Linked DNA regions of Homo sapiens: region 1 is linked to region 2. Evidence: fine-mapped expression QTL. A gene starts in region 2. The other region holds a variant in brackets. All regions are shown on one strand. Distances are between the middles of the regions. Region 1 holds the start of LOC107984563 (a long non-coding RNA gene). Region 2 holds the start of ESD (esterase D).

What was found. PIP is the estimated chance that this variant, and not a neighbour inherited with it, causes the effect.
Region 1: its variant is fine-mapped to the expression of ESD in amygdala (GTEx, PIP above 0.99).

Annotation. Positions count from the first base shown.
Region 1 is chr13:46,757,307-46,773,344 of GRCh38, reverse strand. It overlaps ESD (esterase D), which reads left to right. Exons shown (of 10, transcript NM_001984.2): 10 at 1,849-2,089. The coding sequence ends at 1,929. LOC107984563 (a long non-coding RNA gene) reads right to left here and starts at 13,187. Exons shown (of 3, transcript XR_001749983.2): 1 at 13,097-13,187; 2 at 12,411-12,508; 3 at 11,713-11,844. The variant C/T (reference allele first, on the strand shown) is at 6,897.
Region 2 is chr13:46,787,538-46,803,575 of GRCh38, reverse strand. ESD (esterase D) reads left to right here and starts at 6,415. Exons shown (of 10, transcript NM_001984.2): 1 at 6,415-6,471; 2 at 10,132-10,179; 3 at 12,156-12,230. The coding sequence starts at 12,163. RefSeq lists enhancers at 6,498-6,547, 6,679-7,280 and a silencer at 6,858-6,907.

The DNA of each region.
Region 1 (16,038 bases), 30 kb after region 2:
TAGTTTAACCATTGTAGAAGATAGTGTGGTGATTCCGCAGACCTAGAGGCAGAAATGCCATTTGACCCAGCAATCCTATTACTAGGTGTATACCCAAAGGAATATAAATCATTCTGTTATAAAGATACAAGCACACATATGTTCACTACAGTACTATTCAATACTATTCAATAGCAAAGACATGGAATCAACCCAAGTACCCATCGGTGATAGACTAAATAAAGAAAATGTGGTACATATGCACCATGGAATACTGTACAGCCATAAAAAGGAATGAGATCATGTCCTTTGCAGGGACATGGATGGAGTTGGAAGCCATTATCCTCAACAAACTAATGCAGGAATAGAAAACCAAACACCAGGCCAGGCGCAGTGGCTCACGCCTGTAATCCCAGCACTTTGGGAGGCTAAGGTGGACGGATCACAAGGTCAGGAGATCGAGACCATCCTGGCTAACATGGCGAAACCCCGTCTCTACTAAAAATACAAAAAATTAGCTGGGCATGGTGGCATGCACCTGTAGTCCCAGCTAGTCGGGAGGCTGAGGCAGGAGAATCGCTTGAACCCGGGATGTGGAGGTTGCAGTGAGCCAAGATCATGCACTCCAGCATGGGTGACAGAGTGAGACTCCGTCTCAAAAAAAAAAAAGACCAAACACCACATGCTCTCACTTATAAGCAGGAGCTGAATGGTGAGAACACATGGATATATGGAGGGGAACAACCCACACTGGGGCCTGCCAAAGGGCGATGGGAGTTGGGGAAAGCATCAGGAAGAACAGCTGATGGATGCTCGGCTTAATACCTAGGTGATGGCTTGATCTGAGCAGCAAACCACCATGGCACACGTTTACTTATGTAACTGCATATCCAGCACATGTACTCCTGAACTTAAAAGTTGAACAACAAAAAAAGAAGGAAAATGCGTTAATACCTTATTGTAATTATTTTTTTTTTGGAAGACTATTTTTTATATTCAGAAGAAGTGTCAGAGTCAGCAGAAAGGGATTATTTCTCCATTTACCTACAACAATGGTTTTAAATGACTGGATAGATAGAAATCTCTTTCAACTTAACTGCTTAGCACATTGCATTTTTCTCTGTTTCATGTTAGTTTTCCAAAGGATTACTGACTTTTTACCTAATTTGCTAAGGGATGTCAGGCCTTAATGACATATTTCCCCTCACATAAAGATACAACATGCTTTTACTGTGTAGGAGGAATTGTTAACAGGATTTATGATGGCTGTGTTTGACTTCCCAACAATGATAGAACATTTGGGCATTTTTATGTTCTTTTTCTATATTGTTTGTGTGCTTATTTTGTGTTTTAATAGTCACTGTCTTACTGATGTGCTGCATTTGTGAATTGAAATGTCTTGCCCATGTTTCTAAGATCTCTAAATCCTGATTCTTTTCATCTTGGTTGATATGACAGTGTCATATCAACTGACACTGTCAATTGATAGTGTCATTTTCAATGACAGTGTCTACTCTGCATATTTAATGCACTCTACAGTGTTGATATGACATGTCTACTCTGCATATTTAATTAATGTGTTACTTCCACTCTTTACATATTAATGGCAGCATTTAGAAGTTAGGCTATGTTTAGAAGCTAGGCAGAATGTTTAGTTTTCCTTCACATTTTTGCTGCTCTTTTAATGTACAGTGAAAATGTTAAAGTACAAGGATGACAACCTTGATTTTATTATAAACCTTCCTCATACTTCCTTAATGTTATGACTATTTGTAAGCAAATTAAACGACCTTAGAGATATATTTAATGTTCCTAATACTGATGTTCCTGAATGGTAGATAAATGTCTTATCATCTCTTTATCTTCTAGGGTTATGATCATAGCTACTACTTCATTGCAACCTTTATTACTGACCACATCAGACATCATGCTAAATACCTGAATGCATGAAAAAACTCCAAATAAGAGAATCTCTTCAGGATTATAAAAGTTGTAAAATGCAACTGTATTGCTGAGCAAAAAAAAAAAAAATTCAAAACATTGGATTTTATAGTGCTAAAAGGGCTTTATTCTATAGTTGAATCACCTCTGAATAAAGATATAAAACCTACTTCTGATTTTAAAAGTTATTTTACAAGTGTTCACATAGGAAATCTTTAATGCTCTATAGCTTTTTCAGTGTCGTTTGGAAATTCTTGTATTAATCCCAGGTCATAGAATATGAATGTAATCCTATTTGAAGTATAGAGTAGCAACTCTGGAACAGAAGACTTAAAAGTAATTTAGCCCAGACTCCTCACCTTTCCAGACTTTAAGCCTCTGAAGACATTGGACTGTCTTTGTCATGTTCATTGTTGTATCTCTAGTGTCTAGCAAGTGTCTAGAAAGCAAATATCCACTTGATTTCTAGTGGATATTTAATAACTGTTAGCTACAGAATAAAGAGGTAGGCTCAGAAAGGTTAAATGAATTCCCCATCGTTACACAGCTATTTGTGGGATATTAGAAGACAGATTTTCTTTTCTTACCTATTGAGTCTAATATATTTGTGAACATTGGTTTTTGGGTGTATTAAGGTTCTCAAGAATTAAATAAGATTCAATCTGAAAATGGCTAAATAAGGAAACGTATTAGTTTCATATGTTACTGTAAACATGAATATTTTCCCATAGTTGCAAGCAGAGATTTAACTTGGTGAGCTCACCAAGAAAAGTAATATCTCTGTAAATACCCAATTGTTTTCCTTTAAGAACTTTTAATAGACAAACTTTTTGAAATGTGATAAAAGCCAGTAAAACATGATAGAAGCCAGTAAAACCTGGCTGCTTTAAAAATATATTTTTTTCTGTTAAAAAATAAATTTTAAACATTCAGTAGGAATGCATATTATGGTAACTGAAGAAAATGACATTAAGTTCCTAAAGTTATAAAATTAGTATTATTTAAACATCAGTAGTCAAGGTTGAGCCCTTGAATGAGCTGTACACAGAATGGTTCTCATTTAAACAGTCTTGTGTCTTCTAATAAGATCATTCATGAACGTTTTACATGCTGGTAATTTATTTGTGAAGAAAAACAATTGTCCCTAAGATCATTGAGGTTGAGGTTTAAACCAGGGAAGCAAAACTAGTAGGAGATATATACATTAAGATTTTTTTTAAAAAACGAGGAATTGGCATACCTGGATTAAGAAAATGTGGCACATATACACTATGGAATACTATGCAGTCATAAAAAAGGATGAGTTCATGTCCTTTGTAGGGACATGGATGAAGCTGGAAACCGTCATTCTCGGCAAACTATCTCAAGGACAAAAAACCAAACACCGCATGTTCTCACTCACAGGTGGGAATTGAACAATGGGAACACTTGGACACAGGAAGGGGAACATCACACACTGAGGCCTGTTGTGGGGTGGGGGGAGGGGGGAGGGGGGAGGGATAGCATTAGGAGACATACCTAATGCTAAATGACGAGTTAATGGGTGCAGCACACCAACATGGTACATGTATACATATGTAACAAACCTGCGCGTTGTGCACATGTACCCTAGAACTTAAAAGTATAATAAATATATATATATAAAAAAAAAAAAAAAAACAAGGAATTGGCATACCTGATTATGAGGGCTGGCTAAGCAAGTCCAAAATCCATAGAGCAGCAGTCAGGAAGGGACAGGCACAAGCAGGACGGACTCTGGGCATGGGCTCAAGCTGTTGTACACAGGAGGAATTTCTTCTCTCCTGGTGAGGCCTCAGTCTTGCTTTTAAGGCCTTCTGATTAAGTGAGGTCCACTGGATTGTCTCTCCTCTTTAAAGTCAGTTGATTAGGGACTTTATCTGCAAAATTCCTTCATAGCAACACCTAGATTAGTATTTGAATAACAGGGGACTGTAACAAACAGCTAAGTTAGTTAGTGTATCATTGTTAGAAAATAGTTGCTTTGCTTTTTTACACGTAAATGCAAAACATTTAAATATTCATTAAGTAATTGCTGATGAACAGCTAATGTTAGTAAAGACAAAGACCTTTAGTTAAAACAGAAATGACTGTTGAGGATAATAAACCAATACATTTGAGCTTGCTTTTTTGTGCCACAAATGCTGGCCTGGGGAGGGATGAGTCCTTATCAATGCCTAAATGTAACATGAGTTTCCCCAACTAGAAAGAGTTCAATCTTAATGTCTCTCATATTGTAAGGTTCCATCTCAGTGACATAGTTAACAATACATAACCTAAACATTAACTCCCAATGCTTGTTTAGGGTGTTTCTAGAAGTCACCTGACAATCAGGTATAAAAGGAGGTAAAGGAATCTGACATTTCCTGGATTATGTTCAATGTAAGACCCTTGTGAAGATTATGTTCTTGAAGAAACGTAATACTGTAAAGCCACCACCATGAAGAGTAAAAGGACAAGCCACAAAGTAGATGGAGATGCTTGCAACACATATATCTGACAAATAACTTGTATCTAGAATGCCTGAAGAACTCTCACAAATTCTTAAAAACATAAAATTTGGCAAAAAATTTGTACTTAACAAAATAGGACAAATATGGCTAATGAATGCCTGAAAATGTGCTTAGTAAGACTGGGGAAATACGAATAAAAACTACAATGCAATGAACCTACACACCCACCTGAATGGCTAAAGTTCAGACAATGGAAAATCCCAGGTGTTGACAAGGAAACATGGCGACCTGAATTATACTGCTAATAAGGTGCAATCTGGCAGGATCTGCTAAGGTCTAGTTCAACCTTAGCAAACTGGTAAGGTCTGATGAGGCCTCAGACCTTACTTAGCACGTCTCCTATAGCCTTTCAATGCATGTTTCTGTACTTAACAGGAACATTATGGCTACATGAGAATGTTTACAGCAGCACCATTTACAATGGCCAAAATCTAGAAATAACCTGAATCCATCTATAACAGAATTAGTAAAATTGGAGCATATTCATACAATGAAATATTCTACATGAATAAAAATAAACACACTATAACTGGATGCAGCAACATGGATGGGGTCTCAATCATAATCTGGAAGAAAGAATCCTGACACCAAATTATGTGCTATATAATAACTTGGTACCATTTTATATGCATAGTATTGAAGACAGGAGGTGTTACACATAGCAAGGCAATGGAAGGGGGTGGTGGGGGGCATTCTGAGGGAGAGGTGATTGGAGCATGGCAGGAGAGAGTACTGGTGATGCTATCTTCATCCAGGTGCTTGGTACATGAGCATGTTCACTGAAAATTCATCAGGCCATACACTTAGGATTTATAAACTTTTTAATATGTGTTATACTTTAATAAGGTTTACATTAAAAGTATATTAAGTAGTTATGCTGTGAAGATCATAAATATACTACTGCATGAAGAATTTAAAAATCCTGATGTTATTGCAAAGAATACTTATCTTGGGGGATACAATTTCCAGTGGCTACATCGTTTATCAATTCAAGTAATATTGTATCTCAAACCACTTAGAAGTGAAGGTGATGTGAAAAGTTGCTGCAAAAAGTGGCTGTAGGCCAGGCGTGGTGGCTCACATCTGTTATCCCAGCACTTTGGCAGGCCGAGGTGGGTGGACCACTTGAGGTCAGGAGTTTGAGACCAGCCTGGCCAACATGGCAAAACCCCATCTCTACTAAAAATGCAAAAATTAGCCAGGTGTGGTGGCAGGTGCCTTTAATCCCAGCTACTCAGGAGACTGAGGCAGGAGAATCGTTGGAACCTGGGAGGCAGAGGTTGCAGTGAGCTGAGATTGCACCACCGCACTCCAGCAACGGACTGAGACTCTATCTGCCCCCTCCCCCAGAAAAAAATGGCTGTAGTGATGTTACTGATATTGACGATGCAAATGAGTTTAGATAAAACCATGTCATAAAATCTTACAACAGAATATTTAATATTTCCAAGCTGACATATCTCAAGTATTTTTAAAGTATACATATAAAATCTGTGACAAGTAGGCATGAATTATATATTTAAAAATGTATAAATGTATTCGAATTAGCCAAAGTTTTGGATGTTATCATTAGAAAAATGCAGATCCAGGCCAGGCGCAGTGGCTCACACCTGTAATCCCAGCACTTTGGGAGGCTGAGGCAGGTGGATCACAAGGTCAGGAGTTTGAGACCAGCCTGGCCAACGTGGTGAAACCCCATCTCTACTAAAAATACAAAAATTAGCCTGGCATCATGGCGTGCACCTGTTATCCCAACCACTCAGGAGGCTGAGGCAGAAGAATCGCTTGAACCCGGGAGGCAGAGGTTGCAGTGAGCCAAGATCGTGCCACTGCACTCCAGCCTAGGTGACAGAGCGAGACTCCATCTCAAAAAATAAAAAAAAAGAAAAAGAAAAATGCAGATCCTCTCATGTTCAAGGTTGTCTTGTATTTAGGCACACTGGGTATATACAGTATGTAACAGATTACATTGTTTTATCGACCTTCTGCAATGAAAGCCACTTTAAAATTAAAACAGCCAGATTTTTTTTTAAGCTTTCATTTTTGAAGCCTAGCCTCCAAGTAATCTGAAGAATTGGGGTTTCGGATGAAGAAAGGAAATGTCACTGTTGGTGTTCCAGTGATGGGGATGGCAACAGCAGTAGCTAAGAAGACATTGGCAGAGGTTGCCGGGGGGGTGGTGGGGGGAAGTAAAGATGCAGCGATGGCCACAGCAGCACAGGGGACCATGACAAAAGAGGCATCCACTACAGTCGAAATGGAGGACAAAGTGTTAGAACCAGTAAGAGTTTCGTAAAGTGGCTAGAAACAATATAACTGTCTCAAAATTAGTGATTTTTCTATAAGTCTATGTTTAATAAAAATTATTTTAAAATGATCCTATTCACAGCAGCAACAAAAAACTACCTAGAAAGAACTCAAACCAGAATTGTATAATACCTCTAG[C/T]AAATAAAGTAAGTCTTAAATGGAAAGCAATATCATATTCATGGAATAAAACTCTCAATATTGTAAAGCTACAAACATACCCCAGATTAATCTACAAATGCAATATAATCTTAATCAAAATCTCAAAGTTGTTCATGGAGCTTGACAAGCTAATTATAAAATTTATATGGAAGAATATGCCAAGACGGCTTGAGAGAGAACAAATTGCTCTGCCAGTTGTCAAGACATTATAAAGCTGTGATAATTAAAACGGGTTTGGACTCAGAAGAGTTCATCCCATCAGAAAAGTCCTGCCACAGACCCACACAGAAATTTAGCGTATGTTAATAGCAATGTCTCAAATCAGTGAGGAAAACATGAGCCTTTCTGTAAATGGTGCTGCCAAATTATTTTTCAGTAGCTTTGTGGAGAAAGATATACAAAAGGAGGCCTGTGTAAAGGCATGCATTGCAGCCTTGTTTGTAATAAATACGAAAACAACCCCAAATATTTAAGAATCAAAGTAAGTTGGTGAAAAATTTGACACTGTTTACATTTTCACAAGCCATCAAAACAATATGTATTTTGCTATAGGTACAAATATATTTCATGGGAAAAGTTCTGAATGGAAATAATGAGTTACTTCTGGGAAAGAGGAGGAGGGCACCAGAGTTGAAAATAACAGCCAGAAAAGCTTTATTTTTGGTGGATTATATCATTTTTACAGAAAAAGTTATTCATGTATATTTTCAGTTGTAAAATACTAATTTTAAACACTAATAAATGTTGAAAATCAGAAAGAACAGTGCTTACACTCATCTGTGCCAAGGTCCAGAAACACATTTTCATGCTTCTTACTTTGTATTTCTGAGAACTTAAGTTCTGGTTCAAAAACACATTGGAATTAAAAAAAAAAAATAGAATTAACATAGCTGACTGTGTGAATAATGAGACTTTCAGGAGAAGAAACCCTTGTAAGGTCCTGCCTCCCAAAGGTACTTCAGGCCAGTCATTGCATCTTTCAAAGGCCAATTCCTCACTGGAAAGCAGAGTAAATAAACAAAAACCCCTACACTAACTCCCAGGGCTGTGTAGCAAGACAAGATACCCACATGAAATCTCTGTCATCTTATCCAGATGTTAGTGACTAGATGCATTAGGGCCATTGAACTTCAAAGTGACCCGTGCCGTCCTTCAGGGGTGCACAAGACCATCCAATGGACAGGATTAGAGCTTCTGTCTATATTTATTTTTATTTCATCATCTCCTGTTAAAATTTCTATTTTTGTGCATGCCTTATAATATACATAGCATATTGGTATGCTAATGTATACAATTATAAATTAAAAGTCATATAGTATGGGTGTGTGTGGCAAATGTGCCTCCCAAATTTCTTTTTAAGCTTACTTTTTAAACCACAACTTTTTAAGTGAGAGGAGACAACATTGTGAGCACCAACACACAGATTATCTATTGCGCTATTAGTTTCTACTCTGCCAGTACAAAGAATGGTTGGCTATAGAAATAAAATATTTTCCTCGAAGAGAGAACATAGTTTGTAAATTTCTCATCCTTTCATAGCCCTGCTAGTCCAAGAGAAAATGTCTTTTGCTTATCAGATATATATTTTTTTATTTGTTGTTGTATTTGGCCCAACTCTGGGATTCCAATCCATGACCAGTGAATTTTCGATTTCATTTGTGTCTCTTTGGCACCAGGTGGCAGCTTCTGTCTCTAACGACACTTAATGAGCTTCACTTTCTGGTGATAGTACATAAAGAAAATAGAGTTCTAGCACTTTCTTTGTTGGATGATAATAGTATACTCAACCAAATAAAGTAACATTTTCATCTTATTGGGCTTATTAGAAAAATTCAAATACCCCTAAAAATGAGGCATGGAGCTGGGAAGTGGGTGAGGCAAGGGACTTTTTTTTTTCCAATTTATCCTAGATATTATTTTGGGCATTCTGGTTTTGGGGTGTATTATTTTGTGTGTGTGTGTGTGTGTGTGTGTGTGTGTGTGTGTGTGTGTGTGTGTGTGTGCATTTAAACCCTGCATTTAGAGTTGTAATATTGACCCCAGGCTGTTCACGTGGTTGATTGAAGGCAGATTGCCTTATTAGTCATTGCTGGTTCAATGGGATTAATATTCCTTAAAGAGGAAAGCCTTTTCCTTTTGGGTCTCTTCTGAAAACATTTGAGTAAAAACACTGCCACCCAGTGTTTCTTTTAGGAGAAGCACAATAAATATACCGTGCACTCTTAAAAAGTTTTCTAGGATGAATAGCAAATCACCCATTTTCTTAGTTATATTCAAATAAGACCTGACAGACGACAGAACATGCCCTGCTTTAAATGTAAAATAGGCCGGGCTCAGTGGCTCACAACTGCAATCCCAGCACTTTGGGAGGCTAAGGTAGGAGGGTTGCTTAAACAGGAGTTTGAGACCAGCCTGGGTAACCATGAGACACTGTCTCTACAAAAAATAGAAGAAAAAAAAAATTAGCTGGGTATGGTCGTGTGTGCCTATAGTCCCAGCTGCCTAGGAGGTTGAGGTGGGAGGATTGCTTGAGCCCAGGAGATCAAGGCTGCAGTGAGCCATGACTGCACAACTGCACTCCAGCCTGGGTAACAAAAAAAGACCCTGTCTCAAAAATAAAAATAAAATATTCCAGCCCATATCATGCTACGTAATGCAGAGAGGCTATCCCAGATGTTGGAATGATTGTTTGATTTTCAAGCATGAATTCTAAGACGATCCTGCAAATATTCCAGCCTTACGTAATCATTCTGACCTGGATCATGGCAAAAAGACCAGGCTAAGGGCTTTGTCACCATTCGAATCCTCCCTCAACCTTTCTGCTGCAGTCACAGTTGTTTTCATCCAGCCCTCAAGAAGTGCTCTCCAGGCCGGGTGTGGTGGTTCACACCTGTAATCCCAGCACTTTGGGAGGCCAAGGCAGGTGGATCACTTGAGGTCAGGAGTTTGACACCAGCCTGGCCAACATGGTGAAACCGTCTCCACTGAAAATACAAAAATTAGCTGGGTGTGGTGGTGCACGGCTGTAATCCCAGCTACTGGGGAGGCTGAGGCAGGAGAATCACTTGAACCCGGGAGGCAGAGGTTGCAGTGAGCTGAGATCGTACCAGCCTGAGTAACAGAGCAAGACTCCAACTCAAAAAAAAAAAAAAAAAGTTCCTGTCCAGTACAGTTCAAGGCAGCCTTAGGTAGCAGCTCCCTTTTGCAGGGCCCACATCTGGAGAAACCTGTGTCCTCCCGCCTGGTCTCTTTGCCCTGCCACCCCACAGGCTGTGCATTTGCCCACCTCTTCTCTTCTGCCCTCCTCGTTCCCAGGGGAGGGGAAGGTGGGCAAATGCACAGCATTCCAACATCTTTCTCTGAAAGTTTCTGGCCTCCTCACCTCTTCTTGTATTCTTCATAGAGCCTGTTGGACAGAAGTGGGATTTGCATCCTCTTTGCGATGAACAAGCACCTTGTTTTTGGAAGGTGGTGGAACAGAGCGCCCATTATTTTGGGACCTCTGCTATAACCATAACATCGTTTACACACATAAGTAAAAGAGAGATAATGACAATAGGACCTACATCCTAGGGTCATAGAGGATCAAATGAAACAACCCAAGTAAAGCCTTGAGCTATTTACTCATCTTTTTTTAATTATTAGATATTTGGTCAGTGACTTGGTAAATAGAGGAAGATGTTATAGCATAATCGTTAAAAGTGTGGGTTCTAAGACAAACTCCAGGAGTTGAATCCCAACTACGCCACTTAGTATTCATGGGACCTTGAACAACTGACCTCCCTGTGAGATGGGGATGATTGTAGATGTTATCTCACAGGGTTCTTGTAAGATGTACAGGCATTGCTACTTGTACACCTCCTGAACAGTGCCAATTAGGTAGTAGCCACTCATATTAGTCAGGGTTCTCCAGAGAAACAAGATCAATAGGATATATATAGAGAGAGAGATGGATGACAGGGGATTTGTTAGAGAGATTGGCTCATGTGATTATGGAGGCTGAGGAGTTCCACGATATGCCATCTGAGAGCTGGAGAACCAGAGGAGCTGGTAGTGTGGCTCAATCCAAGTCTGAAGGCCTGAGAAGCAGGGAAGCCAGTGGTGTCACTCTCAGTCTGACGCCGGAGACTGGGAACCTGGGGGACTGCAGGTGCAAGTCTTGGGGTCCAATTGTCATGTAGTTCCTATTGTCATTTTCTCTCTTTTACTTATGTGTGTAAAAGGATGTTATGTTGGCGCTCCTTCTATCCTAGTTCTAGCAGAGGGCTGGAGAACCTGCAGTTCAGGAGAACAGGAGAAGCCAGTGCCCCAGCTTCAGGAGAAACAGAGAATTCACCTTTCCTCTGCCTTTCTGTTCTATCTGAGCCCTTGGCCGATTGGGTGGTGCCCGCCCTCATTGGTGAGGGCAGGTTTTGTTTACTCAGTTCACTGACCCAAATGCCAGTCTCCTCCTGGAGGCAGCCTCACAGACACACCCAGAAATTATGCTTTACCAGTTATCTGGGCCTCCCTTAATCGAGTCAAGTTAACACCTAAAATCAACCATCACACCACTCGATAAGCATTGGGTATTGTATTTAGTTTTCCTCATCACTTATATCCATGACTTCCCTTATTTAGATTCCTGTAAGAAAAATGAACTATTGTGGGGTCTTTTCATGCTCTTTCCCCATTGAAATTATTATTTGTCTAATACGAGCTCGATAAAAGAGGTTTATTGAGAAATGAACATAAAGCAGACACAGATTATTTTTTCAGGGGTGCCAAGGTGAAAGAAATAATCTGGAGGGGATGGGGAAAAAACTCACCAAAAAGGAGACATTGTCCGTAAGTCTTGAAGGCTCAGTAGCACTTCATAAAGTCAAGAAGAGGTGAGCGGGTATTCCAAGGAGCAGGCGTAGCACAGGGAACAAAGACATGGGAGCACCTGGAAAGAGGAGACTGGAGTGGCTGCAGCAGAGGGTGTTAGCAGTAGGACGGAAACAGTCTGGGAAGGGCAAGCATAGCACCAAAATCAATTGTGTGAGTAATAGTAAAGTGCTGAATATGTTTCCAGTAGGGAAGAGACATGATAAGACTTGCTTTTTCTAAATATTATTGTAGCAGCAGAGAAGGGAGGAAGAAGAGGAGGGAGACAAGGTGACAAATGAGCCATTGACCACTTACCCAGGGTGAGCTGATCAGGGCAGGCGCTAAGGTAGCAGGGAGAAAGAGGAGAGGCTGGGGCTGAGAGATGTTTCTGAGGGAGGATCTGCGGGGCTTAGTGACAGACTGAAAAGGACAGGAACACATCAGTGGTCATCCTGCAGTGTCTAGCTTGGGAGGCTGGGAAGATGATGAAATCACTGAACCGGGAAACGCATATAAAGAAGGAGTTTGGGGAGGTGCAGAGGGAGGTCAATTTTAAACATATTTGCAGGACCCATAGGACATCCAAGTGAAGATACCCAGAATGGACCTAGCATTGTGAAGATATACAGAGTTATAAGTTACCTAGGCTGGTGGACACCACCAGAGATCTTCAGCATGGATGGAAGAGTGCCAAGCATTTCATTTCCAGGAGGGCAGGGGTTGGGCACAGAAACAGAAGCCTATGAAGAAGATGGAAAAATAAAAACATTGAGATAAAAATTGTACTAAGAGAGAACTGGCTTTCAAGAAGCAAGTTTTCAATGATCTCATATGCCACAGGAAGGTCAAATAGAACAAGGACTGAAAAGAGGCCATTGGATCTGGCAACTGAGATGTGGGACCCATGACCAAAAAGTATTTTCAATGAAGTGGTATGGTTAGAAGAAGAAATGAAGGCATTTGTCCATTCATTTATTCAACAAATATTCATCAAGCACCTATTATATATCAGGCCATGTTCTAAGCCTTGAGGATATGGTAGTAAACAAAACCAAGACCTCTATTCTTTCTAAGTTTACACTCCAGCATTGCTTATAGAATACTCTTTAAAGAACTTAACAGGGAGAGGAGAAACTAGACAGTATTTTGAGGGAAAAGATGAAGTCAAGAAAAGTATCTTTCTTATAGCCTGGTAATGTTTGAATTTGTGGCTGAATAATTAAACTATAGGTGGAGAGGAGAGGGTGGAGGAGGAGATCAAGAGACAAAGAGAGAGAGAGAGAACAAATAACATAAAATCTCCCAAGGCTGTGGAGTTGGCATCTAACCTTGGGAGGGAGAAGTGCCATCTACTCCTCCAAGACAGGAAATAAGTTGACACTTCACTGCTGAGGCCCTCATTTTCCTTGTAAATTAAGAGGCAAGCTGGGGACAGACTGAACGAGATTTGAGACAACACTTTGGAAGAGCTGAAGCAGGAAGCAGGAAAAGAAGCCAACGGCACAAAGTCAATATTCAAGCAGAGTTCTGCCCAGTTAAGCAATAAAATTATGTGGCAAGGAGTTCTGTTACCTCACCACCTACACATTCAGTCTAACTAGAGGCTGTGTGGAGTCTTCCAAGGCAGTAGACATGTCTTCTCCCCTTCCCCTTCCTCTGGCTTTTGTGACTGTAGCAGATGTCTATGTGGAAATCAACTTAGAGGACAGCAAATTTTTTTTTTTTTTTTTTTTTTTTTTTTGGAGACAGTCTTGCTGTAGTCACCAGCTATCTGGGACTACAGCACGAGCCACCATGCCCCTGCTAATTTTTGTATGTTTTGTTTGTTTGTTTTTGTAGAGGAGGGGTTTTGCCATGTTGCTCAGGCTGGTCTCAAACTCCTAGGCTCAAGTGATCCATCACCCTCAGTCTCCCAAAGTGCTGGGATTATAAGCATGAGAAACTGTGCCTGGCCTTTTTTTCTCAGAGAAAAGCGATAGTTGTGTCTTAGTCTGTGTGCATTGTTATAAAGGAATACCTGAGGCTGGGTGATTTATAAAGAAAGGAGGTTTACTTGGCTCGGGGTTCTACATGAAGCATGATGTCAGCATCTGCTGCTGGTGAGGGCTTCAAGCTGCTTCCACTTATGGTGGAAGGTGAAGGGGAGCCTGTGTGCAGAGATCACATGCCAAGAGTGAAAGCAAGAGAGAGGGGGAAGGTGCCAGCCTCTTTTCAACAACCAATTGTGACAGGAACTAAGAGTGAGAACTCACTCCTGGCAGAATGGCACCAAGCCATTCATGAGAAACCCACTCCCATGATCCAAACACCTCCCACTATGCTCCACCTCCAGCGCTGGGATGAAATTTCAACATGAAACTTGGTAGAACCAAACAAACCATATCTAACCTATAGCAAGTTGTTAGGAGAGTTTATTGGCCAAGTACCCCATTTTATTTACTTTGGCATTCCTAGTCACATTGGAAAGCGGCAGCCTATCCGCTATTCCTCCCCAGTCTCATCCCCACCTTGCCCCATTTTATGACTCACAAGTACCAATATGTTGCTCACTGCCTTTAAATGCTCAGTGACTTCTTATCATGGGTGTTGCTGACCCAATTTATCTTTGCAACCAGCATTAAAAAGCACAGAGCATAATGGTCAGATGGATTTTCTATAGGTAACTGCCTGCCATGACTTTGGTGTCATCGCCTCTCTCACCTTGTCAGTAAATGTCACTTTACCTTCATCCAGATGATGACTGTCTTGCATTCTCGATGACGCTGTGCTTCACGCAGCGATCCTCAGCTCCAGACCTGCCTGACAGCATCCTCTGCCCATAAACACACGTACTTCTGAAAAGAAAGATCTACAGGTAGGACACAGCTGTCTTAGCCCTGGGTTTGTACTGACACAGATTTCCAGCCTACTTATTTAGACAGTCTTTCTCAAGTGTTTGCTGGGCTTTCTTATTATTCATATATAAACAGAAATTAGTGTGTGGCATCACTTTCTGTCTTTTTACTTTCAGTCTATGCCCTTATATCTCGTTGTGTCTGTAAATATATAGTTGCTTTTCTTGGAAATCCAATCTGCCTTTCAGCTATCTAGTTTCTTGCTATTTATCATGCTTGCTGATGTATCTGAGTTTATTTCTGCTCTGTTATTTGGGTCCCTTCCTTTACTCTGTTCCTTCTGCTTCTTCTCCCCAGTCTACATCCTTCCTTACTTTTGGAAGGGACTTTCTAACTTTATATTCTTCTCTTTACTGATCTGAAAGTGATAGACACTCTTGTCTTTTCATTAAAGTTTTAACATTTACATTTAACATGATTGAAAATGCAACAATGCATCTACCCTCCTCCAAAATAGCAAGAAACTGAAATATTTTAACTGAGATCAAGCCTTTTCATCTTGTATGTAGTACTGGCCAGCATTTTCTTTCTATTTTTGTTTTGTTTTGCTTTTCAGCAACTCCTACCCTAAATTAGCCATTAATGTCATTAACGTACAGCCAATGTTTGTTTGGATATGCACACATAGTTACATGTTTATCTTTTGGCCACTGTTTTTTTTTTGTGGGGGGGGCGGTTAGACCTTCCTTCTCCCTGAAATACATCATTCAGTGAAAGTGTGTTGATAGTGAATTACGTTTTTGTTTGTCTGAAAATATTAAGCTATTTTCTCTCAGTTCTTTCTTCCTTCCTTTCTTTCTTTTCTTCTTTTTCTTTCTTCCTGTCTTCCTTTTCTTTCTTCTCTTTCTTTTCTTCCTTCCTTTTTTCTTTTTCCTTCTTTCCCCTTCCTTCCTCCCTTCCTCCCTGTCCCTCTCTTCTTTCTCTCTCTCTCTCTTTCATTCTTTTCTTTTTCTTTCTTTCTCTTTCTTTTCTGTCTTTTGAGACTGAGTCTCACTGTATCACCCAGGCTTGAGTGCAGTGGCACGATGTCAGCTCACTGCAACCTCCTGCTCCGGGGTTCAAGTGAATCTCTTTCCTCAGCCTCCCAAGTAGCTGGGATTACAGGTGCACGCCACCACACCCGGCTAATTTTTGTATTTTTAGTAGAGACAGGGTTTCACCATGTTGGCCAGGCTAGTCTCGAACTCCTGAGCTCGAGTGGTCCACCTGCCTTGGCCTCCCAAAGTGCTGGGATTACAGGCGTGAGCCATCACTCCCAGCCTCTCTCAGCACTTTGAAGAGATTATCATTGATTGGCTTCTGATTGTACTGCTGAGAGATCTGCTACAGTACTTTTTTCCCCTGTAGGTAATCTGTCCTTGCTTTTAGAATTGTCT
Region 2 (16,038 bases):
AATTAATTGAACCCAAAGAGGAGGTCATGGGGATCCCAACTTGAAGCAGGTAGGTCAAAAGTTCTGGAGGCCTAGACTTGCGACGGTGGGTTCTGACACTATCTCCAGGTAGATAGTGTTAGAACCAAATTAGAGGATACCCAGCTGGTGTCTGCTGCTTGGTGTGTGGGGAACAAAACCCACACATTTGGTCACAGAAGACTTCTGTGTTGACAACTGCTGTGGTGTGAGAGTAGAGGAAAAACAGAGAGAGTTTTCCCTACCCACTATGTCATAAGAAGTGTTGCAGCTTCTGCCGGGGCTTCTTGCAATGCTTGATAGGGGGCAGCCAGACCTAATGTAGGAAGTCCAACTACCCTGAGACTACCATGCTGTGAGGAAATCCAAGCTAGCCAGGTGGAGAGAAGGTGCTCCAGCAGCCTCCAGTTGTTCCCGCCATTCCAGCCCAGGCACCAGATAGGAAACTGAAGAAGCTATCAGCAATTCAACCTCCAACCATCTGACTTCAACTAGATGAAGAACCACAAATGAGATGCACCAGCTAAGCCTGTCAGCCCCTGGACCCATGAGAGATAATAATCAATTGCCACTTTAAGCCACTAAGTTCTGGTGTGGCTAGTTACAAAGCAGTAGGTAACTAGAACATCACTTCCCTCCAAAAAAATCGTTTTATGATTTAATATTTAAAGCAGTATTTAATCTGTAAATTAAAAGGGCAAATTGCTTTATTTCAAAACTGTAAAACAACTTTATTTTGGGTTATGAAATAAATTAGTATGCAAACCTAAGGAAAATGTTTCTATGAATAGACTGAGTACATGTGTCTGTGAGAAAATCAATTAAACTGAGAAATGTAAAAACAAATTTGCAATTAGGGGAAAAAGTACAAGAGAATAATGTTAGCAATTTAAACAAGGATGTTTGCGTCCAGCTTTGTTGAATAACTCAAAAGGGATATTTTTAAATGTTGATTTCATAATCTGTCAAAAATGTTAACCATCTAACAAATGGATAGCATCACTGTTATATGCTAAGCTTTTGTTTCCTTTATGTTCTTTTATGGAAAGAAAATAAAAATTTACTTCTGCATTCTATAAACAATAAAAAAACGTATTTCAATCCTGAAAACATGATAATTACTAAACCTTTGTCTTAGTCATACTGGGCTGCTATACCAAAATACCTTAGACTAGATAATTTATAAACAACAGAAATTTACTGCTCACAGTTCTGGATGTTAGAAAGTCTCAGATCAAGACATCAGCAGATTCAGTGTCGGTTAAGGGCTTCTGTTATAAGAGTGCTTATCCCATTCATGAGGGATCCACTATCATCACTTCATCACTTCTAAAAGGCCCCACCTCTTAACACCAACACATTAGAGATTAAATTTCCACATATGAATTTTGGAGAGACACAAATACCCAGACCATAGTAACCTTTCATGAATTCTAAAGCCACTTGTGTGCCTACGATTTGCAAGTATTAGAGCTAGGATATGACTCAGCTCCTGCCTTTCAGAAACTTACTTATATTCAAAATTGCAATGCAATGTTAGGTGCCACAATAGAGGTGTGGCTGTACAAGGGCTAAAGGTGCACTGAAGAGTGCTTAGCTTTATCTAAGCAGTTCAAAAAGTTTCCTTGGGGAATGTGCATTTGAGCTGGGAACTGAAAAACATGTAAGTTTGTAAGGTAAATTGTGCATGGTGAGAAGTGTGTTGTGGGATAGGCAAAAGGAACAGCATGTGCAAAATCATGATGGTATAAGAGCATGGGGTGTTTAGATTATAATTAGGAGGGAAGTAGCTTGATACAGCTTCAGCATAGGATGGAATTATGAGGGAGCTGTAGCTCATGAACCTGGAGGGATAACTTGGTAATAATGTCATCTTCATTCATAGTGCCTGGCACATAGCAAGTGTTTCTTAACAGTAATATTTTGAGCATGTGTGTGTACAGATGCAGCCATGGGCTGCATTACAATGTTTTGGTCAATAACTTATTATATACACTACAGTGGTCCCATAAGATTGTAATACTGCATGTTTACTCTACCTTTTCTGTATTTAGCTGTGTTTAGATACACAAACACCATTGTGTAACAGTTGCCAAGAGTATTTAGTACAGTAACATGCTGTACAGGTTTATAGCCTAGGAGCAACAGACTATACCATGTAGCCTAGGTGGGTAGAAGGCTATACCATCTAGGTTTGTGTAAGTATACCCTGTGATATTCCCATAGTGACAGAATCAGCTATCAATGCATTTCTCAGAACACATCCCTGTCATAAAGCAACTCATGACTGTAGATAGATAGATAGATAGATAGATAGATAGATAGATAGATAGATAGATCCATTTATCTGTCTATTGAGAGAGAGAGCTGGAGGGAGGACATGGGAAAAAGAAAATGGAATTTCTAAATTGTTTTCATATAGGGAGGCAAACAGAAAGGGAAATTTGGGGTGACTTGTGGATATAATGGTCCTTGCAATAAGGCCAAGATGGCATATCTGCGGGGATTTCTACCTAACAGCTGATTCTTCATAACCAAGGAAGCTGTCCTAGTTCTCAGCCTAAAAAGATAATGATATAATATCTAGAGCTACTGACTTTTGGAGGATACATAAAACCCCAATTTTCTTCTAAATTCTTAGTTTCCTTTAGCAAAATCCCAGCCATGGTTATAATGGTAATCTCAGAATTTTTTAGTTGCCTCATTGTCTATGAAATAGTTTATTTTACTTCACTCTCCATGTTTACAAATAATTATAGAAGCATGTTTAAGCTATGCTGGGGAATGTGTAAGTGACTAGGAGGCATTTTAGAAATGACCTAAAGAAATAGTTGGCATTATTGAGAAAAGGATCATGAAAGCATAGGTAGTCTCACTAGCAAAATACTAATCTTACACCAAAGGAGATTTATAAGCATTAACCAAAACAGTTAGTGAACTGGCCTTTTGTCAGTTTTCATACATGCCAATGATTAACAGATAGCCAGAGTTCATTTTGTTTCTAATAAGCTATCAATGGAACTTTAAAAATTATGAATAAACTGACAAACTGTGGCTCAACAAATATGTAGAATGTTAAGAAACTTAACAGTACTGTAATTGAGCAAAAGGTGATAAAAGAATAGGAGTCACTTTGAACAGGAAAAAATCTATAGTTTTAGTTCTCATGCTAACAAAAATAACAATAATGGCTAACACAAAAGTCTAGCTCTGTACAATCACACACTAACTCTTGATTTTTTTGAATGTGTGATGAAAAAGAAATATAGCTTTTAGGATTTAAGAATTAAAAAAAAAAAGTAAATGGAATTGAGGCCAGATGCAGCTGGGTGCAACGGCTCATGCCTATAATCCCAGCACTTTGGGAGGCTGAAGTGGGAGGATCACTTGAGCTCAAGAGTTCAAGACCAGCCTGGGCAACATAGCAAGATCCCATTTCTACTAAAAATACAAAAATTAGCTGGGCATGCTAGCACACGCCTGTAGTGCCAGCTACTCAGGAGGCTGAGGCAGTAGGATCACTTGAGCCCAGGAGTTTGAGGTTGTAATGAACTATGATTGCGCCATTGCACTCCAGCCTGGGTGACAGAGTAAGACCCTATCTTAAATAAATAAATAAATAAAATTGAAATATGTGAAATTTGGACATTTGCTAATATGAATGTGAGACTGAAAGGCTTGTCTGTACTTGTTGTATTGTACTCTGCAGTTAGAACTTAAGATAACAAAGTCAAGATGGAACAGTGGCACAGGGCTATAAGTTTCCGGTACTTGGTTCAGTTCCCATGATCCAAAGTCTGGTCCTCAGAGTACACATTCAGAAACTCAATTCTGTAAGGTGAGTATCATGCTCAGAGATGGTAAGTCTTTGGGAAAATGTATCATCTCAGCTACACTCACCAGAGACTAAAGCATTTTTAACCTAAGTTCTGATTTATTAAATAACAATGGAGCCTATTATTTTCCAAAATGTCACTAGATAAGAATAGAATCAAAATAAAGGGAATTTTGAAAAATGTTTATCTAGGCCAGTGGTTCTTAACTAGGGGCAATTTTGCAGCCCTCCTCTACACCAACCCCTCCTTCCATGGACATTTGGCAATGTCTAGAGACGTTTTGGGTATCTAAGCTTGTTAGGGGTACCACTGGCATCTAGCTAGTGGAGGCCAGGGATGTTACGAAACATCCTACAATGCACAGGGTAGGCCTCCACGACAAAGAATCATCTGGCCCCAAATGTCAACAGTGCCGAGGTTGAGAAACCCTGTTCTAGTCTGTGGAAAAGCCACAAGGACACTTCTCAAGTAGCATATTTGATACCCAAGAGATTATATTATTTTCTATGTATGGTGTCTTTTCTAGTCTCTCTAAAACTATCTTTGCTATGGATTGAATGTTTGTGTTCCCCAGAATTCAAACATTGAACCCTAAATCCTTAACGTGATGGTATTTGGAGATGGAGACTTTGGAAGATAATTACACCATGATGGTGGAGTCCATGTGAATGGGACTAGTGCCCTTACAATAAGATGAAGGAACCAGAGCTCTCCTCACCCCACCCACCAAGTGAGACTACAGCAAGAAGGTATTCCTCTGCAAACGAGGAAAAGGGCTCTCAGCAGGAACAGATTTCATCAGCACCTTGATCTTGGACTTCCCAGACTTTTAGAATGGTGAGGAATAAATTTCTGTTAAGCTGGAACTGACTAAAACAATCTCTTTTCTTACAGGCTTCAAGTATATTTGACTTTTTCTCATTTTTATTGCATCCCTTTATTGCCTCCTTAAGATTATATTCCTACTCATTTTAGTTCAAACCAAGAGTCCTATATCCTCTCAGCCACACATTTACACATAATTTTTGGACTATTTCTTTGTGTACTTAATATTCATCCATTTTTATTGGTAGTGCCATTTTTTAAAATGTCAACCTTAATTTCTGATTTCAGCCTTCTTTGCTTCCATGTCCAAATAATAATGATAATTATATATATTCTTAATATTTTTAAGCAATCGACTTTTGTGGATCTATTAACATTTTATTTATGCTGGGTAAAAGAAATTTTAGTTCTGCTTATTCTCACATTGTATTCACACAAGAACCCTTTAGTAAAGAACTTCACACTTACAGTTCTTTGGCTAGTCTGCACCTCACAGCAGTCCACTTATTAGGCAAATATATCATTTAATCAATTATTTCTCTTTGTTCAAACATCAGTTATAAAGAACTTGCAATTTAGGTATTTATTCTGTTTCAGTTTTGAAACTGAAGAAAATCCCCTTTTCAATGATTTATACTTAAAGATAGTAAAAAGAAAGTTTAAAACAATTTACTTCAATGCTTTCTCAAAATAAAAACATTATTTTGATGAAACATTATTTTCAGTCTAAGTTCCAATTGATCCACAGGTTCAGTCCACAGGTTAATTTAGTCCAAAGATCACTATGGCAAAATGGGCCTGAGCCACACAATAGATTCTGGCAGGTAATCTCTTGTGTGGCAGCTCATCCATACTTAAGTCAGCTCCCATAGCTACACAATTTGCAGGGCCCAATTCCAGACACAAACGTGGGGCCCTGGTTCAACACTTACTGAGAGAAAATGTAGCGTCCTTCTGTTCTGGGGGCCGGGTAATAGCACAGGTTGCAGGCCCATGAGGCCAGCCCCAACTATCAGATTGTGTATTTACAATGTCAGTCTAACCGTTGCTGAAAAATACTTAGCTCTGTTGTAATCAGATTTAATTTCTCAAGAGGCAAAGTACACTCAACAGTTTGCTTAAATCAGAGAGACCAAAAGGAAAGATTTGCTGTAAATTATCAACTAGCAAATCTTAGTCAGTTCAACTTAATTTTTATTGAGGGAAGAAGGGAGAAAACAGAAAACTGATGGAGTTCCCACTGCGTGTCGGCCACTGGAGATTTCAAAGGTTTCTTGTTTAACTCAAGCTACCAAGTAGGTGACGTGGATAGTCTTGGGACAGAGGAGTTGAGGGAGTTGAAATTAGGCCCTAGTTTCTACATAAGTGACACGGAAACCCTCTGCACGAGTTAAGCGAAGCTACATCTCAAGTTTATTAATGCCTCGGGTTCTTGCTGCTGGCTCTGGGAAGAGTCTGAGCACGCACAGCAGACTGATCCCCGACAAGGTGACAGGGACTAACCTAACGCCCTCCTCGTTGGTCCTAGTAACCACACAGAGCAGAAACGCGGGCGAAGGCAGGAGTTGGAGGGGGCGCCCACGCGGAGGCTGCCGGGAAGTGCAATGTGCAAAGGCGGCGGGGCCATGGAGACTGAACTGGAGAAGAGCGGGTTCTCGGAGTTAAAAGCGAGAGTGAGTGGGACCGGAGGGGCGGGGCATCATATGGGCGGGGCTGAGGCGAGGCCCCGGCGGCCATCTTGAGCCCCGCCTTTTACTTCGGCCCGCTTCTTCTGGTCACTCCGCCACCGTAGGTAAGACTGGGTTCGGGTAGAGGCCTGGACGTTGTCAGCCTTCCTGCGGCTGCGGCACGGCTAGGCGTGATCGGGGCGGACGCCGAGTCCTGCGGTGCAGGTATCCGCAGGCACGAGCGCAGAGACGGCGACCCTGGGCCTTGGGCGCCACCATCCATGACAGGAGGCCAAGGACCTTTTCCCGTGACCCGGAGCCTCGCCTCTAATCCCTTTTCCTTCTCTGAGCCTCCAACCTAGTGTAACCCGGGGCGAGCGCCCGTTTACCTACTGCCCGCTACATTTGTACAGCTTTTTCCTGTTCAGAAAGACTTTCCTAGACCCGCAGCCACCGCGCGAAAATGTGAAGTAGATGTGTACGCATTTTAAGGAGGGAGCTGGCCTCAACGCGTTACTAGCGGCCGCCGGCGCCTGGTTCGGGGGAGTGTGGACCTGCTGCTCTAGGCAGCGTCCGCGTCGGGGCACGAGCCAATGGCGCGGTCAGGAGCACTCACCTGATGGTGCCGAGGGGAGCACGTGTCTTTGGAGTTTGACAAAATCTGTTCGGGTCGTAAAATGCTCTCAGAGCGCTGTGGGGGACTGGAAGTCATTTCTGATGGGGTCATTAGGGAAATGGGATTGAGCGCACCTGGAAGGAGAGGGCATTCAGGTTGCAGGAAAAATAATAGCTCATGTTTGTGTGTGTGGTAGAAGCAGCATTTTAAGCACTACGTGAATTAACTCATTTAATTCCCAGAGCAACCCTATCAAATTGATATATATTACTGTATACCCATTTTGCAGATGGGCAAATGAGGCATAGATTAGCTTGCCCAGTGTCATGTAGTAATAAGTGGTGAAGTCAGGGTTTGAACCCGGAGGGTCTGGCCCCAAAACCTGCTCTGAAACCATTGTACCGTGGCATTGAGTAAAGCCACCCGATAGCAACATCCAGGCCATCCTAGAATTATGCATAGTTGAGTTTAACTAACAAAATAGGGAGTGAGACCAGAAAAATAATCTGGGACCAAATTATAGACCATATTTAGAGCCATGTGAAGGTGTTTGGCGTTTATAGATGCTATATTTTTTTTAAAAAATTTTCCCCAGAGTTTAATAGAAATCCTTACCTAGGCAAGCCATGTGAATTTTTATGAAGGAAAAGAGACCCAGCCTAGGCAGCATGGCAAAACCTCCTCTACAAAAAATTACCTGGGCATGGTGGTGCCACCTGTGGTCCCAACTACTCCAGAGGCTGAGGCGGGAGGATCACCTGAGCCCGGGGGCCGAGATGATTGCAGTGAGCCGAGATCAGGCCACTGCACTCCAATCTGGGCCACAGAGTTTGACCCTGTCTCAAAAAAAAAAAAAAGAAGAAAAAAAAGACTGTGTTTGCACACAGGTAGAGTGTGACTGAAGTTTATATGGAGTTTTATTCATCTATTTTTTCAGTGATCCTGCATGGTTTTAATTTTATGAAATTTTAATGGCATTAAACTTGAAGAAAATTGTACAATTAACATGGTCTTCCATTTCAGTGACTTTCTGGTTCTCAGCGACTGGCCTAACAGCGAAAGGGATTAGTAGTCTCCACCTGCAGCAGCCAGGGGGTGATGAGGCAGTTCTCATCTGCTCATTATTGTGAGCTGGCGAACTGCGTTTTTACATATGACTAATGGATACTTAACACTACTGAAATACACACTTAGGAATGGTTAAGATAGTAAATATTATGTATGTGTTTTTATCACAGTTTTTAAAATACTAAATAAAAATGACTAACAATTCCACGTAGGCCGTATTAGGCTGCAGATGAGCTGTTGGTAGGGATCCGTTGACCAGTAAATTAAGTGGATTAAAACCCTAGGCTTTCATGCAGGATTGATCGTAGTGGGATGTATTAGGAAGAAAGGAAGAGGCTAAGTTTTAATTTCTTATATATAATTAGGATGATGGCAGTGGGAATTCAAAAAGAAGGTAACTTTGAGGCATCTCAAATGTAGATTAGGCAAGACAGGCATGAGTCTGAAAAAGAGAGGCAATGAAAAGAGGAATGGTTTGAAGGTGAGATGCAGAAGCTTAATTTTAGGTGTGGTAAGTTTTAATAGCTGGTGACATGTCTTGGTAGAAGAGTCCAGCAAGAAATGTCATTATGGGTACTAATGCTTGAGAAAGATTGGTTATAGAGATGCAGATTTAGATTATTTCACCCAGAAAATGTAGTTGAAATTTAGGGAATGAGGTTTAGGGAAAGAGTGTGAAGAAAAAAGAAAAGGGAGGTGGGAGGAGACAGAGTGAAAGGGAAGAAGCCAGATCCTGAGTTTTCACTGAGAAGAGGATTTGAACAACACAGTGGTGGTCAACAGCAGTTATTGGAACTGTAGATTGTTGGTTTTGGGAACACCTGTCTAGGTTGTTAAGAGCCAGTGGAATAGGACATCCTGGAAATGAAGAAACATCAAAATCCAAGGAATCTGAGAGAATGGGAACAAAAAAACACATGTAGAGATTTATGGAAAACTTGAGACACAGGGGAAGAAGGATAAAAATAGAACTCAGATTTCTGGAGGTGGATGACATTTAACTTTAATAAGTAAAGGGCCCTGTCTCTACAAAAAATTAAAAAAAAAAATATTCCAGTGTGGTACGCACCTGTAGTCCTAGCTGCTCAGGAGGCTGAGGTAGGAGAACACTTGAAGCTTGGAGTTCTAGGTTACACTGAGTCATGATTATGCAACTGTACTACAACCTGGGCCACACAGCCAAGACCCCATCTCCAAAAAATAAAAAATAAAGGGAAGAACAGTAAGGTTTGACCTTTAGGGGAATGGATGTATTATGCACTGAGAGACCCTTTCTTCTCCAAAGAATGTTGATGTTCACTAACATTTGGGAAAAATTGTGTAACTCCCACTGGCACTGTGAAATTGTTTTTCTGTTTTTGTTGTTGTTGTTGTTGTTGTTGTTTTTTGGAGGGGAAGGAGGAAGGGTGTTGTTTGGTTTTTTGGTATTCCACCCTACTCTGTCACCCTATTTCTCCCACAAAATCTGTTCTAGAACCTAAATATATATTTGTTCTAGAGCCTAAATGAAATCTACCAGATAAGTGACATGATATATACTATGTAAGTTTCCATATATATTTTTCTTACTGAATATCAGTCACTTCATCGTTCATAAGCCCACTTTTCTTATACATCCTTTCTAGTCACCCTAGTAGTAGTCCTTCAGTCCTCATCTCTTCCCTTCTTTCTCCCCATGTTACAAGTTCGACTTACAACTGAGCCAGATAGATCCATCTTCCTCTACTTACCTAGTCCCCACTCTTATTTTCTTCACTCAGGAGTTGACTACATCTCATGCTTCGAAATTACACTTGAAAACTTTGTTTATTGATTTAAAAAGATAAAAAACTTTCATAGTACTTTTACTTCAGCAGATGGTTTTGACCAAGTACCAACAAGCTTTATGGCAAAATAGGTATTAAGGTGGCCTGTGGCAAATAATTAGATTATGGGCAATTAAGGTAATTAAGTGGTGATGTGGTATCCCATCAGGGTGTACAGTCATTTACCTCAAAAGAAGAAAACATCTCTATTGAGAATGCATATGCATATAAAAGCTCTGTATAACCTTTGCTGTGAAAAGTATATCCCATTTGTAAACCATTGGTGTTTTTTTCAGAATCGCCTACCATTTGGTGCAAGCAAAAAGCAATCAGCAATTGGACAGGTAAACTTGTTTTATTGTTTATATGTTACTCTGAACATTGAATGAAAATACCACTAATAGCTTGTTTTAAAACGTGCTATTTTTCACATAGAAAAATTCTATTGAAAAATATAACCACCTATTATAATGTATCAGATATCATAGTATATCACAGTATGTCATATCTAGTTCTTAGTTTATGTCATATTTCTTGTTAAGCCTAACATATTTTTTTGATTTGTAATTAAAGATAGTTTCTAAAATGGTGGGTAGAAAAAATACTTTAAAAGCTTTGTTTTTTAAAAAATATTCTACCAACTTTTAAAAAGTGTTTTAATCTTGTTTCTTCTGGCCAAATGAAAAGCATTTGATTTTGAATTTTAAGAGCAGAGAAAACTGACAACTTGAGGTTTATTAAAATAGACGAATAGCAAAGATACAGACTCCTATGTACCAGATACGTGCTCAGTGTACCATCTTTTGCAAAGTGGATATAGTCCTTTCTAAGTTTAAGAAAATCTGGTTTCCTTGTGGAATAATGGAGCAAATAAATTTTATTTGTTGGTCTCATATATATGTATTAATATATTAAAATTAGTATCTCTCTCTATAAGTTCATTATTTAAGATAGGATTGTTAACAGTAGCTAAAGTTAATATTCAGTAACTAATAACATCTCATGGGAGTTTATTGTTTAAGAATTAATCTTTTATAGATTAAAAGCATAAAACTGAGCAGATGGTAATTTCTTTGTGTACAGTTGTAATATCATAATTCTATAGAATCAGTTATCTTAAAGTGTCTTAAAAAATGAGTATTTAAAGAACCTCTAGAGAGTCAGGACAGCATAGCAGTTAAGAGTAGGGCTTCTGATGTCAGACTTCTGGGTTCAAATCCCAGTCTTCCAAAATAAAACTATTTGGGTTTATTGAAGAAATTAGAGATAAGATTGAAACTAATTTTTTAAAGTATTTTATAAAGACATTTCCAAAATTAGCTTTTTAAGATTATTGTTATACATCTTTGAAAGAGTAATCCTAAAGCTCCAGCTGATTAGCATGTAGTAGTGCATTTCTCTGAGAAGATCACCAGGGTGGTAATACCTGTTCCTGATATCTAAAGCTTTTTCTTCAATATGTAGGACTTACTGCCTTATATTCTAATACAGTGTTTCTAGGAATAGAAAGGGAATCTTTCTTTGAGAGGTACATGTCAGAATCAGTGTGGTTTCCCTTTGCTTAATAGGCATTTATGATAAAGATAGTTTTCCAACTTTTTTCCTGTATTTATCATTAAAAGCAATAAAATATGTCATTTTACATGTAAGTTTAAAATTATTTTTACATGAAAACAAAAGATTTGTTGGACAGAAAAGAAGTTAACAGGCTTGTTTTACTTATTGGTTTGTTTTAAAAGGAGAAATAAATGTTGATCTTAAAGTTTCATATCACTTTCTCTTAAAAATTCATGGGATGAGTAATTGGATCTGGTTTAGTGTCTAGAAAAATGTGTATCACACCGTAAGTGTTCAGTAATGTTACATATTATTATTACCAAAATCATTATCACATCTTTCTTCCATTTTAAAATCAACTATAATCAGTCATACCAATTCCTTGACTACTTTGTTGCAGTTGATAGGCAGACTATTAACAATTTTTAATCTTCTAAACTAAGGTAATTAATTGGTAACTTATGTATTTTCTGCCTCTTTTAAAAATAATTTGGGGCAGTCCACCACAACGAAAAAACTTGTTAATAAATTAGTAATGATATACCAAAGTATGAAAGCTTTTAAAAGTGAGTAACAAGTGTAAATGCATGTATGAGCGTTAATCAGTTTCTTAATATTATTTACTGGAGAAAAATGTGAAAAAAAAATTCTAAGTAGAAAATAGTTGTATGTTCAGATAATTTATCTGAAGGCAATTAGTTTTGTTTCAAGTTTTTCAGTAACTAATTCTCTGGAAATTAATGAGATTACTCTTTACTAATAGGAAAAGAATGGCATTGAAGCAGATTTCCAGCAACAAGTGCTTTGGGGGATTGCAGAAAGTTTTTGAACATGACAGGTAACTATTAAGAAGATATAATTTTAGATACCTCATTCTGTTGGATTATTTTGTTCTATTTTAAAACCAATCTTTATCTAGATATTATAGTACCTCATTTTACTTTTAAACTTGCTTACTCTCTTTCTGTGGTTATGTATTTGACAATTCTACCAGACTTAATTAACTGTGGATGTGATTGTGTGAGGTAGAGCCTTAACAGAGAAGTATCTTCAAGCTTTGACATGATGCTCTTCTGAAACTTTATGAAAATGCTTATGTTGCCAGTAAAAATTCTGAAAACATTTTCTTTGAGGATCTCTAAGTGTAGGAAAAACACCTGGACTTTTTGAGAAAGATGGCACACTAAACACATGCATTTGCTTCCGCTGCCTCCAAAACTCTGACTAACATGGCATTAAGTAAAGAGATTAAACACACACGCACACATACATATACCTATAAAGGCATAAAGAAGCAGGAGACAGGAGCTAAGAATAACATTTTAGAAGCAGGAATACAAATGGAGAGGTAGTACCTGACTTAGTAAAACCTAGAAAGCTACATTCTAAACATAAGCAAGAAAACCTGAGAAATGACACAATTTATTTAAAGCCATAGTAATTGGAGGCACCAGGGACCCCTGAAAATAAGGATAAAAGTTGAGCTTAGAAAAAAGATTAATTGAAAGTCTGTTTTTAAAAGGAGATAGATCTGAGAGTGTCCCAGCTTTATGGACTGCCTCTTCCTAACTCTGGGAAAGATTGGAGGTAAGTTCTCTAGAGAAAGTAAACTGTTTGTACTGGGGAATACCAGACACAATTAGTGGGATTGTGATACTGCAAATAGATTAAGCAAAAGTTTGCACACTGAGTTTCTTCCACTAGCTTTCAAAATTTGGGGACTTAGTCTTATATCCTTTAGAAGAATTTCTTTGTGGGGAGTTTGAGTAGCCCAAAGGAAGAGATTTCAAGATACTGAGATTTGCCAACAAAGTAACCTAACCAGACCTTACAGTAAAGCAATGATTGACAACTCCACCTGTAGGCACAGTGCTTTCAACTAGATTTTTAGTGTTTCTCTCTTAAATAGGAGTGGACAGCTAAAGATCACTAGACATTTGTATAAAGTCTTTAATTTGATATGAACTTCTCTTCATATCAAAGTATAAAAGATATTGACCTCTTGACTTCATAGGATGCTATTAAAAAATATTCAAGTACATGGCCAGGTGTGGTGACTTACACCTGTAATACTAACACTTTGGGAGGCCAAGGCAGGCAGATCACCTGAGGTCAGGAGTTCGAGACCAACCTGGCCAACATGGTGAAACCCTGTCTCTACTGAAAAAAAAAAAATATATATATATATATATGTACAAAAATTAGCCAGGCATGGTTATGCACACCTGTAGTCCCAGCTACTTAGGAGGCTGAGGCAGGAGAATTGCTTGAACCTGGGAGGCAGAGGTTGCAGTGAGCTAAGATGGCACCACTGCACTCCAGCCTGGGCGACAAGAGCGAAACTCTGTCTCAAAAAACATAAAATAAAAAAATCCTCAACTACAAAAAAGCCTAGACATTTAAATTTTGGTAGTAGAAATGACAAAACTCAATAGAATGGTTAGTTGAACATTCTAGAAAGTAAAATAAGATAAAAGTGATAAATCAGAAAGGACAACAAAATTAGAGGACTAGTCCAAAAATCCAACATTAAAAGTTAGGAATTTTGGAAAATAGAACAGAAATAGAGGTATAGATATAAATAATAAATAATTCAAGAATTCCCAGAACTGAAGTTGCCAGATTTAAAAAGTTGTCTAGTACAATGGATGAAAATAGATCTACACCAACAACATAGTAAAGTTTTAGAGTGTTGGGAACAAAGAAAATTCTCAAACATTGAGAAAAAGAGAAAGTAGATTAAGAATTTTTCAAAGGTTTAGGTCAGCTCAACGGTATTACTAGAACTAAGAAGGCAGAGCAGCAGTGCTTTCAGGATTCTGAAGGATAACTTCTATGTCCAACCATATTGTCAATTAAGTGAGAGTAGAATGAAGATGTTTTCATATATGAAAGGTCTCAAAGTGTATTTCCCATGCACTTTTGGAAGCAACTGAATAATATGCTTCACCAAAATGAGGGACTAAAGCAAGATAGCTGAAGGCATAAGATCCAAGAAAACAGATCAGAGGAGAAAGAGTTTCCAGATGAGTGGAGCTATATTAAGGCAGCAACTAGAAAGCAGCAGGTCAAAAGTTGGAGATGGTAGCCAGTAATTACATGTAGCCATTTACATCAAATTAGCTAATTAATAAAACTTCAGTCCCACTAGCCACATTTCAGGTGCTCAGTAGTCACATGACCAGAAGCTGTTGTACTGGACAATACATAGATAGAACATTTTTATTAATATCACTGTAGAAAGTTCTGTTCGGCAGTACTGGTCTGAAGGGGTTTTTTTAATGTAGATGAAATTGATAGAACTGACTGTATTAGAGAGGAAATTTATGAAACCAATCAGGGTTGGGGGAGTTTGGTATTGAATTAGTGATACATGCAGAGTGACCACACAAATATCTGTGCATGAGATTGTATTCTTTTGGTAATTGAGCAACATCTTAATGACATGATAGGGACAGAGGTTTCAGAAGATTGCTTGATAATCCTGTTGTGTTTTTTTTTTTTTTTTTTGCTTTTACATAAGTGTTAATCATACCACTGTTGAACATACTTTAGACCTGATTTATTCCACAACTGCTTGAGAAAGGTCCTCTTTTAAAAATTTTGTTGTAATAACAAAACAACATGAAATATACCCTCTTAACAAATGTTTAAGTGTGCAAGAAAGGTCTTAAGGCACCAACCATTCTGTAACAAGATTATGTTCTCTTGATTTTACGTATTGATAACAGATATCCCTGCATTGAATATGGATTTGATATAGTATTATAATGAAAGTAAATGTTTCAGCTTCCCTAACAAAAGTTGAAAACCTAAAAACAAATGTCAGAAATTTTTTGTGCCGTCAGTCATCAACAAGAAAAGTTGCTTAGAATAATGTGGAAAAAGAAAATCACCAATATGCAGAGAATGGAAAGGAGCATACAGAAAACTTCCCATGATGGGGCCTTTGTGGGAGTCTATTCCTAACAAGGAAGGATAACCAGTAACAAAAAGGAGAGAATTACCAGCTCAATGAAAACAAAAAAAACTGAAAGAAAAAGGAAAGTAATGCTAATATACTACATGGCTTATCTCTGAATAGCATTTATAACTTCTTAATATTGATTAACCAAAATTATATGTGATACGATAGTGGAAGGAGAAATGTAGGGGCATGCAGAGAGCAAAGACAGGGAGCTGAAAGTTAACTAAAATCCTTCTATAATGGGAAGCCAATAGATAATAACTAAAAACTGAAAAATCTAGAAGCAGTAATAAAGTCATATTATGTAGATAGGGACATAAATACCAGAAAAATCAACTAAAAGAGGTAAATTAATTATCTCTGGAATATGGAAAATGAGAAGGTTGGAGAGTTTTTTATATATTTAGTTTTTATATATATTTAGTTTTTCATAACAGTGTGTGGAAGTATTTACTATTTAGTTACAGTTTACTTTAAACTATGTACTTACATAACTTTGATAAAAAGATAGGTGTTTACTCTGAAGTAGTAAGAGTTTACTTCCATTTATATGATGTTTTAAATAAACCCATGAGAGATCACTGTTGCATGAATTACTGTTTACTGGAAAAACGCCTGTGGTTTTAATCAAAATTGTCTTTTCTAGTTGCATTAATAGTGATTGTGATAAAATATTAGT